Homo sapiens: one gene and its partners. Changing the gene in region 1 together with any one later gene gives a genetic interaction. Each region holds a gene or a part of one and is shown in the gene's direction. Other genes may lie near its edges.

Region 1 (3,500 bases):
AAACAGGAAAGATCCGCAGAAAATACAATTCTTCCCGAAGAAGAAACTGTAGTTCAGAACACCTCTGCAGGAAAAGACCCCTTAAAAGTAGAGAATAGTCAAGTGACAGTGGCAGTACGCGTAAGACCTTTCACCAAGAGGTATGTGATGCCTTTTAAAATCTAAAGCCAAGCAGTTACATGTAAGGTACCTTTAATTCCTCTCTGCCTTTGGAAGGTCAGTGTATTCGTGCATCTTCAAACTTGTTGGCAATACTTTTATATAGAAAGAACTTTTAGGTCTAGTTGTAGTGTGTGTTGATAATTTTTGATCACTGACTATAAAATTAAAAAATTGAATCACCATATTTTGTATATTGAAGTTTCTCTAGATATATTGCTTTTAAAAAGTCTGAATAAGTCACTTAGGTCTCTAATGAAATCTGCTTTCAGATCTGCAATATATGCTGGAATGTTATACCTATCCCTTAAAAAGAGCCATAACAGGCCAGGTGTGGTGGGTCACGCCTGTAATCCCATTGCTTTGGGAGGTCAAGGCAGGCAGATCACTTGAGGCCAGGGGTTTGAGACCAGCCTGGCCAATATGGTGATACCCTGTCTCTACTAAAAATACAAAAATTAGCTGGGCATGGTGTTGCACACCTGTAATCCCAGCTACTCGGGAGGCTGAGGCAGGAGAATCACTTGAACCCGGGAGGCAGAGGCTGCATTGAGCTGACATCAGGCCACTGCACTCCAGCCTGGGCGACAGAACGAGACTGTCTCAAAAAAAAGAAGAGCCATAACAAATTACTGGTTCCCTAAAGAGGTCCTTTCAAAACCCTTTCCAGAGTGGTGATTATCATCATCATTGTCTCCGATTACTATATAGTAGTTATAAATGCAGTGATACATTAGATTTGATTTTGATGGCAAAAAATCTCTCTCTAAAAGTGGTTGTGGGTGGGGAAGACACAGATTAAAGATAAGGTTGGAAAAGATGGACATGACAAAATGTGAATGTGACAAAATGTAATTGTTTTAAAATATTTTAATGTAGTTGTTTAAAATATTTTAAGGGACAGTGAAAAACTTCACAGAGTTAGTAGTGTTTAACTTGAAGCTGTGTATCTAAGCAAGTTAGAAGAGGATTTGGTGACCACTGCATCAGGGCAGGAACCTCCAGTTTGAACCTAAGGGGTCAGTAGTTAAAGGCAAGTTATACAGTACTGTAGAATCTTTTTCGTGCAAATGGGTTAGTATTAAGAGGGAGAACTGAGGGTGAGTTGGTTTGAGAGAATTGGAATGTCTAATAGAGCCTCAAGAACCATGATAGGAAGAGAAACAATAGAAAGAGCTGGTAGGGACAAAATGCAAGATGGATGACTATACTGAACTTAGTAAGGGACCAAGTGCCTGATTCCAAACTCATCAGACAAGCCTTGAAAGCAGGGCCAGGGTAGAGTACTTGTCAAATTGATGAGGCAGGTGTTTTTTCCAGAATAAATTCTGATTTAAAGCAGTCTCAGAGTCAGGGATGGAGCGGGGAGGGAGTGTATATCTGGAGCCAGACAAAGAGTGATGATGTTTTTCTGTAGATCTAAAGTAAATGAAAGATTTCCACCTAAGTCTCAAAGGGAAAAAGGATATACAGAAAGATTCATGATTTTAAGGGAGAGAATCTAGAGGAAGGAGGAGAGATCTTTAGTAGCCAAGAGAGACTTATGATTGAAACTTACAGTCAACTGAGTTTGTTAAAATTAGATATTTGTATTTTATGCCAGCTTTATTTAGATTGGTACCCCCCCAAATTTGTATAATAAAGATGTAGATTTGGATGAAGAGTATAGGTAGATTATAGTAGGTGGGATGGGAAAAGGTATAGTTCAAGAGAAAAAAAAAAGAGGAAAAAATCTTGTAAAAGTAGGATAGGTTTTCTGGAGGAATCTGGGATTTTCCCTTTGGTGGCACTGGAGCCTCAGGAAATATATTTTGGAAACCCACTAGAATTATGTTTGCTTATCTGCATTTTCCACATAAAACTACAGAATTATCTTGCCTTGGAAGATTGTTTAAATAGTTTTGAGGTATTTATTATGTTCTGTGAGAATAATACCCTTGATCATTTTAGTTACTTGATTTTTTTCTTTGTGCTTCTTTCAAGAGAGAAGATTGAAAAAGCATCCCAGGTAGTCTTCATGAGTGGGAAAGAAATAACTGTGGAACACCCTGACACGAAACAAGTTTATAATTTTATTTATGATGTTTCATTCTGGTCTTTTGATGAATGTCATCCTCACTACGCTAGCCAGACAACTGTCTATGAGAAGCTAGCAGCACCACTCCTAGAAAGAGCCTTCGAAGGCTTCAATACCTGTCTTTTTGCTTATGGTCAGACTGGCTCTGGAAAATCATATACGTAAGTTGTATTGGAAATGCAATTATCCAGAAGTGTTTAAATATACTTTTGTGAGAAGTGGCATAGGGGTGATAGAAAGAATATAGTTTTGAAATCACACAGATCTTGGCCCAAATCTCATCCATTTTATATACCAGTTCTGCAAACTTGGGCAATTTACTTAGCCTCTGGGCTTCAGTTTATACATTTACCTTGATACAATTCATCTTGTAATTATCATTGGCCCCATTTTACTGTACTTTATATATTTTACATAAACTAAGGCCTAGAGAGGTTATCTTTTAAGTATTTTGGTGAGAATTAAAAGTAAGGCATCTAAGCTAGATGTGATGGCACACACCTGTAGTCTCAGCTACTTGGGAAGCTGAGGTAGGAGGATTGCTTAAGTGCAGGAGTTCGAGTCCAGCCTGGGCAACTTAGTCCCCATCTCTTAAGAAAAAAGGGTGGAGGGGCATCTGATAAATGGTAGCTATGATAATAATACCTGTCCTAGAAAGAAATACTCAGCATTTTAACAGTAGCTAACATTTGAGTTCTTTTTTTTTTTTTTTTTTTTTTTTTTTTGTAGCAAGGTTTGTTGTGAAGAGCGAAAGAACAGAGCTTCCACAGTCCACAGCGTGGAGGGGTCCCAAGCGGGTTGCCCAACATTTGAGTTCTTACTATATTCCAGACACTGTGCTAAAGACTTTGCTTATATTCTTTCACAACAATTCTCTGAATTAGATAGTTGTATTATTCCTGTTTTACAGTAGAGGAAATTGAAGTTTAGTGAGGTTAAATATCTTGGAGTCAAGATTTGGACTCAGGCAGATTTGACTCCAGAGTCCAGATTCTTAATTATGAGATTCAGTGAACTTGCTTCCTACTCCCTTCCCAGCCTATTTCCCCAAAAAGAATTTTAAAGAAAGAATTAGTTTTATTTCCCCCTTATTCATAATGTATTTTTCAGGATGATGGGATTTAGTGAAGAACCAGGAATAATTCCAAGATTTTGTGAAGATCTTTTTTCTCAAGTAGCCAGAAAACAAACCCAAGAGGTATGTTCTTATAATACCTGCAAGCTTCTTTTCAGAGTAGAAAATAGTCAAATCAAGTTCAAATCA
Region 2 (3,500 bases), on another chromosome or scaffold:
CTTTTAAGAGATAGGGCCTCACTCTCCGATGCAATGGTGTGATCATGGCACACTGCAGTCTCAGCCTCCTGGGCTCAAGGAATCCTCCTGCCTTAGACTTCCAAAGTGCTGGGACTACAGGCATGCACCCGGCAAATTTTATTTTTTTGTAGAGACAGGGTCTTGCTATGTTGCCCAGGTTGGTCTCAAGCTTCTGGCCTCAAGTGATTTTCCCCCTCTCAGCCTCCCAGAGGATGAGGATTATAGGCATGGGATGCCATGCCTGGCCTCTCTAATTACATTTTAATAACTAGCAATCATTATTGCATTACAAATGGGGATTTTTTTTTATCATACTATGAATTTCTCAAATAGAAACTTATATTGAAATCATGTTTTCCCCTGCAGTCTCACACCATTTTGCTGGTACAGCCTACCAAGAGGCCAGAAGGCAGAACTTATGCTGACTACGAATCTGTGAATGAATGCATGGAAGGTGAGTTTAACACTAATCAAGGGGTAGAAAAATGTCTCATTTAGGAACTGGGTTTTTCCCCTCCAAATTTTTTTTTTTTAATAGTCCATCCACCCCAGGCCCTGCCTTTATCACTTCCAACCCTCCAAATTTATTGAATTGCTAATTTTAGGAGGGAAAGCAGATATTTAGGATGGACCATAATTATTGAACATTTTATTTATTTGTTTGTTTATTTATGTATTATTTGAGACAGAGTCTCGCTCTATCACCCAGACTGGAGTGCAGTAATGCGATCTCGGCTTACGCAACCTCCGCCCCCCAGGTTCAAGTGATTCTCTTGTGCCTCAGCCTCCCAAGTAGCTGGGACTACAGGCATGGGCCACCACACCCAGATAATTTTTTGTGTATTTAGTAGAGATGGGGTTTCACCATGTTGGCCAGGCTGGTCTCGAGCTCCTGACCTCAAGTAATCCGCCTTGGCCGGTTGAACATTTTAAACATTAATTATGTATATAGTATCCTCCTTGCTACAAGTATTAGGTGTTTTTTTTTTTTAAACTAATGTATATAATGAGTGACTTTCCAGAGCTGCTTGTTGTTTTATAAATATTCTCTTCTTATTTGTCACATGTTATTTTGTTACAGTATGGAAATATTTTACAGGTATCCCTTATATATTCTGGTTAAGCTCAAACACTATAGGCTTGTGTGTCTGTCTGTTTTTAATAGGTTGTTTTAATAGATTTAAGGGATACAAGTGTAGTCTTCTTATATAGATATATGGCATAGTAGTAAAGTCTGGGCCTTTTTTTTTTTTTCCTTAAGACACGGGGTCTTGCTCTGTCACCCAGGCTGGGGTACAGTGGTGATAATGGCTTATTGCAGTCTCAGTTTCCTGGGCTCAAGCAGTCCTCCTGCCTCAGCCTCCCAAATAGCTGGGACTAGAGGCACCTGCCGCCACACCTGGCTAATTTTTTGGTTTTTTTATAGAGATGGGGTCACTGTGTTGCACATGTTGGTCTCAGACTTCTAGCCTCAGGCAGTTCTCCTGCCTTAGCCTCCCAAAGTTCTGGGATTACAAGCATGAGCCACCGCGCCAACCAAGTCTGGGCTTTTATTGTAGCCATCACCTGGTGTACATTGTACGCAGTAGTGATTTTTCATCCCTCACCATTCTCCCACCTTTTGTAGTCTCCAGTGTCAGTTATTCCACTCTGTCTGTCCATGTGCACACATCATTTAGCCTCCACTAATAAATGAGAACATTAAATGTTTGACTTTCTGAGTTACTTCACTTGAGATAATGACCTCCAATTCCATCCATGTTGCTGCAAAGACATGGTTTTATTCTTTTTTTAATAGCTGAGTAGTATTCCATGGGATGTGTGTGCATGCATTCTCATACACCACATTTCCTTTGTCTAGTCATCCATTGATGGATACGTAGTTGATTCCATGACTTTGCTGTTGTGTATAGTACTGCCGTAAACGTATGAGTGCAGGTGTCTTTGTTTCTTTTTGTTTTTTGAGACAGAGTCTCACTCTGTCGCCCAGGCTGGAGTGCAGTGGTGCATCTCAGCTCACTGCAACTTCTGCCTTCTTGGTTCAAATGATTCTCCTTCCTCAGTCTCCTCAGTAGCTGGGACTACAGGTGTGTGCCACCACGCCCAGCTAATTTTTGTATTTTTAGTAAAGACAGGGTTTCGCCACGTTGGCCAGGCTGGTCCCGAACTCCTGACCTCAAGTGATCCACCCACCTCGGCTTCCCAAAGTGCTGGGATTACAGGCGTGAGCCACCACTCCAGGCCATCTACTCTAATTCTTAAAGAAGAACATGGCATTTTTTTCTTCATCTCTTTACAGATCCATTTCTCTGCTGACATTTCTGCCTGCTATTGATGTAGATTTTGTATGCAGGCTCTCTTAGCAAATTGTTACCTAACCTACATTATCATGTTTGGTCTTTGATTCTGCAATACTCTTATTTCTCAGGGCAGTTTCAGGGTTCTAGAAAAATTGAACAGAAACTACAGTTTTTCCGATATTACTCTCTTTCTTCACCCCTACACAATTTCCCCTATTATTAATGAATTTCACTGGTGTGGTGCATTTGTAACAGTGGTGAACCAGTATTCATTACTGATACATTGTCATTAAGTAAAGTTCATAGTTCATACTAGGTTTCATTCTTATGTCCTACATTACTGTGGATTTTCCCAAATGCGCAGTGTCATGTGTCCGCCATTACAGCATCACACAGAATGGTTTCACTGCCCTGCCCTAAACATTTCTTGTGCTCTACCTATTCATCCCCTCCTACCCCACCCTCAACCTCTGGGAACCATTGGTCTTTTTACTGTCTCCATAGTTTTGTCTTTTCCAGAATGTCATATAGTTGGAATCATTATCGTGTGTGGCTTTTTCTTAACTGGCTTTTTTTACTTAGCAATGTGCATTTATTATGTTTCCCCCATGTCTTTTCATGACTTGGTAGCTCTTTTTCTAAAAATTAAAAGTGGTGATTTATTTCCCATTTAAAAAACTAAAACAAAAAAATGTTAAAATAATTATTAAATAAGTTCTCACATGATGTGGTTGCCAAATGGTAATTTTATTATTCTTTTTTTTTTTTTCTTGTAGTAAATATTCCCCTGTAGATCAGAGCATTTTTTTCCTCCCCCCTTTTTTTTAAGAGCAGTTAAAGACTTTATTTAAGACCATGTTTTTAGAGCAGTTTTAGGCTTATGGGAAAATTGTTTGGAAAGTACAGAGCTCCAGCATACGCCTTCTTTCCTCCCCTTCTTAGTTTCCCCTATTAGTGCATCTTCTATTAGTCTGATTACACTTGTTGGGATTGGTGAATTAATATTCATAGATTATTATTAACTAAAGTTCGCAGTTTATGTTAGGGTTTACTGTATGTGTTGAACATTCTGTGGGTTTTGACATGTATAATTACGTGTATCTACCTTTACTGTATCATACAGAGTAGTTTCACTACCAGAAATCCCCATTGCTCCACCTATACCTCCTTCCCTGCCAC
Region 3 (3,500 bases), on another chromosome or scaffold:
ACCCATTTGCTGGGCCTCAGAGACTTGGGGGTTCTGAGATTCTGTTCCACTTTCCCAGCCTGCTCTGATCTCCCTGTTTGGGGCCCCAGTCCTTGTTTATCATACTTCTGACCTTTAAGTAATTGGTTGGTTGGTTGGTTTTTTGCAGTTTGTTTGGTTTTCCTTTGAGGCAGAATCTCGCTCTGTCGCCCAGACTGGAGTACAGTGGTGCGATCTCGGCTCACTGCAACCTCTGCCTCCTGGGTTCAGGCAGTTCTTGTGCCTCAGCCTTTCAAGTAGCTGGGATTACAAGTGTGCACCACCATGCTTGGCTAATTTTTGTACTTTGAGTAGAGATGGGGGTTTTCCCATGTTGTCCAGGCTGGTCTTGAACTCCTGGCCTCAAGTGGTCTGCCCACCTTGGCGTCCCAAAGTGCTAGGATTACAGGCTTGAGCCCCCGTGCTCGGCCTTGAGTTTACCTTTTTTTTTTTTTTTTTTTTTTTGAGACGGAGTTTCGCTCTTGTTGCCCAGGCTGGAGTGCAATGATGCAATCTTGGCTCACCACAACCTCCGCCTCCCAGGTTCCAGCAATTCTCCTGCCTCAGCCTCCCAAGTAGCTGGGATCACAGGCGTGCACCACCACGCCCTGCTAATTTTGTGTTTTTAGTAGGGACAGGGTTTCTCCATGTTGGTTTGGCCAGGCTGGTCTCAAACTCCCAACCTCAGATGATCCACCCACCTTGGCCTCCCAAAATGCTGGGATTACAGATGTGAGCCACCACGTCCGGCCTGATTTTACTTTTAATTGACTCATAATTTTATATATTTATGGGGGTATAGTAGTGTTTCAATAATGTGTGCAAATGTGTAATGATCAAATTAGGATAATTAGCATATCTATCACCTTAAATGTTTACTGTTTCTTTGTGATGAGAACATTCAAAATCTTCTCTTATAGCTGTTTTGAAATATGCAAAATGTTATTATTAACTATGGTCACCCGCCTGTGCAGTGATCAGAGATTTCTAATTCCTGTGTGTGCCCTGGATTCTTGAGACTCCTCCCACCTTGGGTTTGGTGTATCCGTGTCTGTGTACACTCTCTTGCCCAAGAGCCCTGTGCCCACCTGTTGCCCCAGTCCATCCTGGCTCACCCTCTCTCTCCCTGTCTCCTTTCGCTTTCCAGCACCTTGCAGAGTGAAGTCAAGCCCATCCTAGAGAAGCTGACCCAGGACCAGGATGTGGACGTCAAATACTTTGCCCAGGAGGCTCTGACTGGTAAGACCTAGAAAGCACGGAGCCCTAGCAGGAGGGTGGACTTTGAGGACAGGCACTGGGCCTGTGGGCAGCAGCTTCTGGGAGGGGGAGGTACCTTGGCATTGTGGGCAGAGAGAGGGCTCTGGTTCTGATTCTTGCCTGTTCCTGTTTTCCTAGTTCTGTCTCTCGCCTGATGCTGGAAGAGGAGCAAACACTGGCCTCTGGTGTCCACCCTCCAACCCCCACAAGTCCCTCTTTGGGGAGACACTGGGGGGCCTTTGGCTGTCACTCCCTGTGCATGGTCTGACCCCAGGCCCCTTCCCCCAGCACGGTTCCTCCTCTCCCCAGCCTGGGAAGATGTCTCACTGTCCACCTCCCAACGGGCTAGGGGAGCACGGGGTTGGACAGGACAGTGACCTTGGGAGGAAGGGGCTACTCCGCCCACGTCAGGGAGAGATGTGAGCATCCCGGGTCACTGGATCCTGCTGCTGTAATGGGAACCCCTCCCCCATTTACTTCTCCACCTCCCGTCCTCCCCATCATTGGTTTTTTTTTGTGTGTCAACTGTGCCGTTTTTATTTTATTCCTTTTATTTTCCCCCTTTTCACAGAGAAATAAAGGTCTAGAAGTAGTTGGTCCTCTGGCCTTAGTCATCAGCTTGGAGGAGGGGGCACCACCCCAGAGCCACAACATCTGCGCTTTTCTCTGGAGAAGATCTTGTTACAGGACCCATTATACCCCTATGTCCCGAAAGAATACTCTGGGGATCCCCCCAGGAGTGCTGCTGGCCTTTGGGGTAGAGGGTCCATGAGGTGCTCTGGGTGGTGTCCTGTAGTGCAGTTCAGATTCATAGATGTCGGCCGAGTATTTGGGGGGTTAAGAGCAGGTGCCTTGGAACCAGACTGCCTGGGTCCAAATTGTGGCTCCTTCAGTTAATAGACGTGTGACTAGGAGTAGCTTGTTAAGTCTTTATGAGCTCAGTTTTGTATTGTGTAAAATGAGAGTTACAGTAATACCTAGATTGCAGGGTGGGTGGCGAGGACCAAGTGAATTAGTACCTGGAAAGTGTGTAACAGTTTCAACATGAGAAGTACACAACATGAGAAGCAGAGTTAGCTGTACATTGCCAGAGAACCCCCTGTGGGCCATTTCCTGTGTTCTTGAAGAAGACTTGGGCTTGGACCCTGTCCCCAGGAGGTCTCAGAGTAATCAGGACGGTACTAGGGAGAGAACTGTGGCAAGATAGATCAGTTATCTCGGTATCTATTCTCCCCTTCCTAATGTAGAAGCTCTGATTTTTAACTGGGCAGATGACTACATGGATTCAAGGTATTTTCCTAGTGTCTCTTGAAATTAGGTGTGGTATTGTGACCAAATTCTAGCCAAAAAGATGTTGAACAGAAGTGGTATATGCAGCTTCTAGGAAGTGTTCTTAAGGGGGAAGGCGTCATCCCCCACCTTTCCTCCTTCCTGCACTCTGGAATGTGGACCAGATGGCTGGAGTAGGAGCTGCCACCTGGGGCCAGAAAATGATCTTAGGCGTGAAGGTCAAGTAAGGCAGGACAAGAGAGAAGGAGCCTGCCTCCCCGAGGCTGTGAAGAGCCATGCCAGTACTGTCACCTGGGAGAATTAAACTGGTCAAGTGCCTGTTCGTTTAGGGTTTCATCACTTGAAGGTGACCGGAATTCTAACTGATGGAGGGAGGGGCCCAGAGCACCCTGGAGAAAGGAGCAAGGGACGTATGGCTGGTGGTGTCTGCATGGAAGGGTTTCACAGAGGAAATGATGCTTGAGCACATTTTGACCCAGGTGGTGGAAGGGAAATGTGGCTTTGAGTGACAAGGTGATTTCACCAGCTCAGCCTTCATATTACCACATCCCTACCCTTTGTTAGACTTTATTGTGCCCTAGGGGATGAGGCTGAAGGAGACCAAAAAGCATCTTTAGAAATTTCCATTTATGCCCTGGGCGATAAACTCTCTCCCAGTTGAGAACTACTGCTCTAGAAATGTGAACACACGTGTAACCAAACGTCAAAGTCTGACATTAAACTTTGACTTTCCCCATGGTTAACGCTGCTGGTCCATTGTAACAAGAGTGCAGTGGACCAGCAGCCTTTGCATTCTCAGGAGCTTGTTAGAAATGCAGAGCCTCTCGTCCCTGCCCCGACCTGCTCAGGCAGAGCCTTCATTTTAACAAGATGCCCAGGTTCATCTGCACACTGAAGTTAGAGAAGTCCTGCCTTAAATACTAACCCAGTTTTTC
Region 4 (3,500 bases), on another chromosome or scaffold:
TGATTTATTAACCTTGATTTTTAAGTTTGAGCAGTAAAGTTGAAGATAGACCTATTTTGACATCTCTGCCTGTTTAATTTTTTTACATACCATTCTTTCCAAGGTTTGTGTTATTACTTATTTCAGATACTTTTTCATTACTGTATTTTGAAAAGCAAATCAATAGTTATGACTGAAAAAACAGTTTAGAGTCTCCAGATACCACACTGTACCCCCAAGTTTCATGTAAATTGACTTGTCTTTCAGGTATATTCCCTTGTGAGCTTCTGTTGAATAAGGCTGCCAGCATGATTAGTAGCCAAGTCCTTTTAAAAACATTTTCTAGATACCCCAAGATTTTCCTCTCAGCCCTTATTTTTACAAATAAATTTTCATTCTAATAGAAGGTAGATTAGGTTTTTAGTTCCTTGCAAAAAATTTGCTGAAAAGGATTCAGGAAGAACTTGGCACCTAATTGTCAATTCTGCTTTGAGAAGATTAGAGAATTATGTAACACACTGCTCATTGGAATTTTATCAGAGAAGGAATAGAGCATCCCTCTGGCAATTTTCCCCCTAAACTTTATGGACTTTATTTTCTTTGCACAGAAATTGGTTGAAAGCACTGCCATCCCAAGTCATTTAAGTAATGATTACCTACTTAGTGTGTTGGGCAGCCTCCTGTTCCATCTCTGAGGTTTATGTGACACACACGCCCCCCAACCCCCAGCCAAAGAAAAAAAAAAGTTTTTATCAGCAGACAGTAATTCTTGCTGCTGAGTCTTCACTTTGAAAAAGAAATAATAACACATCAGACTTCTTTAATAAAAGACATTTTAAAAGGCAAGAACAGAGATGAACTTTTTGACTTTTCTAAAGTTGGAAGAAGGGAAACAAATAGGTTAAGGTTTTGTTATTTTGTTAGAAGTTGTTTAACAAAGGACAGTTGGCTTCATTATTACCTTGTCCAAGTCAGTGATCCATTGAGGCCATTGAAATTACTTAATACTGTTTTATTGCAGTTATGTGTGTGTTGGCTGGGCACAGTAGCTCACATCTATAATCCCAGCACTTCGAGAGGCTGAAGCAGGAGGATCACTTGAGCCCAGGAGTTTGAGATCAGCCTGGGCAACATAGTGAGACCTCATCTCTACAAAAAAATTAGAAAATTAGCCGGGCATGGTGGTGTGCACCTGTAGTCCCAGCTACTCAGGAGGCTGAGGCAGGAAGTCAAAGCTGCAGTGAGCTGAGATCACACTACTGCACTCCAATCTTTGTGACAAAGCGAGATCCTGTCTCAAAAAGGATGTGTTTGTTTTCAGGAGTGAGTTTGTTTTTAACCTGTCAGTTGGATCGTTACCTAATGATAAATCTCAACTATCTTCTGAGACATCCCCAGAGTTGTCAGTGGCATCGCCTCTATCTTACTTTTTATTATGTTACATAGTTCAGGCACTCTTGCTAGGGTTGTCCTTCTGTAGCATCATTGAAGCACAAAAAAGGGAGCAGTATGTAATTCTGGACCTGATGGTTCAAGTTTGATTTGGAGAATTAGGCCTCAAACACAGTGGCAAAAGAGGAAGAGCACTACAATAGGCCTCCTTTATCCTCAGAGTAGGTACCAGAAACCACAGATAGTAGTGAACCCTATGCACAAATTTCTGTGTGTGTGTGTGTGCACGCGCGTGTGTATGACAGAGTCTCACTGTGTCACCGAGGCTGGAGTGCAATGGTGTGGTCTCGGGTCACTGCAACCTCCGCCTCCTGGGTTCAAGCAGTTCTCCTGCCTCAGCTTCCCGAGTAGCTGGGACTACAGGCGCACACCACCACGCCAAGCTAATTTTTGTATTTTTAGTAGAGACAGGGTTTCACTATGTTGGCCAGGCTGGTCTCAAACTCCTGACCGCATGAGCCACCTGCCTTAGCCTCCCAAAGTGCTGGGATTACAGGCGTGAGCCACCGCGCCTGGCCAGCACGAACTTCTTTTTACTTCTTCACAATCTCACAGATAGAAGATTCGTCCTTACCATAAATCTTGGCAGTCTCAACATATGATTCTTTTTCTTATTAAGTCAAGAACTTGTACCTTTTCACTTAAAGGAAGCACTTTACAGCTTCTCTTTGGCATATCCATATTGCCAGCATCACTGCTCTTATACTTTCAGGCTAGTATTAAGTTAAAAAAAGGGTTACTTGAACACAAGTAACCCTTTGATACCACAACAGTCAATCATAAAACTGAGATAACTGATTAATGGGCAGCATGGAGATGCTAGACAAAGGATAATCCACATCCAGGGACAGTATGAGGTATCATCACACTGCTAAGAACAGCATGCAGTGTAAAACTTACGGATGTCTGTTGCTGGGACTATGCATTTAATGTTTTTGGACCACAGATAAGGTGGGACAAAGTTCACCATTTAGCCTTATTTTCTAAATATTATGTGACAAGACAAATATGTAAATTTAGCAGGGAGCTAGGCAGGAAGGCTAGCTTTTCTTGCTTTGGTCAATGAGATGTGATGTTCAATATCTGTTGCCAAAAAAAAAATTGAGAATTTAAAATTCTGATAACTGGCCAGGTACAGTGGCTCACACCTGTAATCCCAGCACTTTGGGAGGCCAAGGCAGGAGGATCACTTGAGACTAGGAGTTTGAGATAAGCCTGGGCAACATGGTGAGACCCTGTCTCTACAGAAAATTTTAAAATTAGCCCAGCTTGGTGGCTCATGCCTCTGGTCCCAGCTACTTGAGAGGCTGAAGTGGGAGGATCACTTGAGCCCAGGAGGTCAAGGCTGCAGTTAGCTGTGATTGAACCACTGCATTCCAGCTTGGGTGACAGAGCAAGACCCTGTTTCAAAAAAAATAATAATTAAAATGAAAATAAAATTCTGATAACTAGGTAAGCATGTTTCTACTCCTGGCTTATGCTGGGCATGGTGATGTGCGCCTATAGTCCCAGCTACTCAGGAGGCAGAGGCAGGAGAACCACTTGAGCCTAGGAGTTCGAGGATGCAGTGTGCAGTGATTGTGCATGTGAATAGCCACTGCACTGCAGCCTGGTCAGCATAGCTAGTCCCAGTCTCAAAAAAATGGAGGGGAGCTCTGTTAACTTAGAAGAAGAGTGTCAATCTTTAGACTCTTTCAGTTCCCATTGTCATTTTCAGGGCACTGTGTTTACTGGTTTTTGTTGTTGGTTTGAGATAAGGTCTCACTCTGTCACCGAGGCCGGAGTGCAGTAGCATGGAGCTTGGTTCACTGTGGTCTCAACCTCCCTGGGCTCAGTTGATCCTTCCACCTCAGCCTCCCGAGTAGCTGGAACCACAGGTGTGCACCACCACCCTCAGCTAATTTTTGTATTTTTGTAGAGACAGGGTTTTACCATGTTGCCCAGGCTGGTCTCAAACTCCTGGGCTCAAGCTATCTGCCCACCTGGGCCTCTCAAAATGCTGAGATTATAGGCGTGAGCCACCATGCCCAGCCATTCTTTTTTAAATCTGCTCTTTACTACCTTATCAT

Evidence for each region.
Region 2: changes in KIF14 (region 1) and ERH together harm fitness more than expected from each alone (negative genetic interaction), as found in Homo sapiens cells (one large-scale study listed by BioGRID).
Region 3: changes in KIF14 (region 1) and PPP2R1A together harm fitness more than expected from each alone (negative genetic interaction), as found in Homo sapiens cells (one large-scale study listed by BioGRID).
Region 4: changes in KIF14 (region 1) and SNRPG together harm fitness less than expected from each alone (positive genetic interaction), as found in Homo sapiens cells (one large-scale study listed by BioGRID).

Annotation. Positions count from the first base shown.
Region 1 is NC_000001.11:200,614,252-200,617,751, reverse strand, and holds part of KIF14 (kinesin-like protein KIF14), read left to right. Parts: coding exon 1-140; intron 141-2,142; coding exon 2,143-2,397; intron 2,398-3,346; coding exon 3,347-3,434; intron 3,435-3,500. UniProt on the Homo sapiens protein: Microtubule motor protein that binds to microtubules with high affinity through each tubulin heterodimer and has an ATPase activity. Plays a role in many processes like cell division, cytokinesis and also in cell proliferation and apoptosis.
Region 2 is NC_000014.9:69,391,800-69,395,299, reverse strand, and holds part of ERH (enhancer of rudimentary homolog), read left to right. Parts: intron 1-387; coding exon 388-475; intron 476-3,500. UniProt on the Homo sapiens protein: May have a role in the cell cycle.
Region 3 is NC_000019.10:52,224,552-52,228,051, forward strand, and holds part of PPP2R1A (serine/threonine-protein phosphatase 2A 65 kDa regulatory subunit A alpha isoform), read left to right. Parts: intron 1-1,165; coding exon 1,166-1,257; intron 1,258-1,413; coding exon 1,414-1,430; 3' UTR 1,431-3,500. UniProt on the Homo sapiens protein: The PR65 subunit of protein phosphatase 2A serves as a scaffolding molecule to coordinate the assembly of the catalytic subunit and a variable regulatory B subunit.
Region 4 is NC_000002.12:70,283,741-70,287,240, reverse strand, and holds part of SNRPG (small nuclear ribonucleoprotein G), read left to right. Parts: exon of another isoform or gene 1-43; intron 44-3,500. UniProt on the Homo sapiens protein: Plays a role in pre-mRNA splicing as a core component of the spliceosomal U1, U2, U4 and U5 small nuclear ribonucleoproteins (snRNPs), the building blocks of the spliceosome.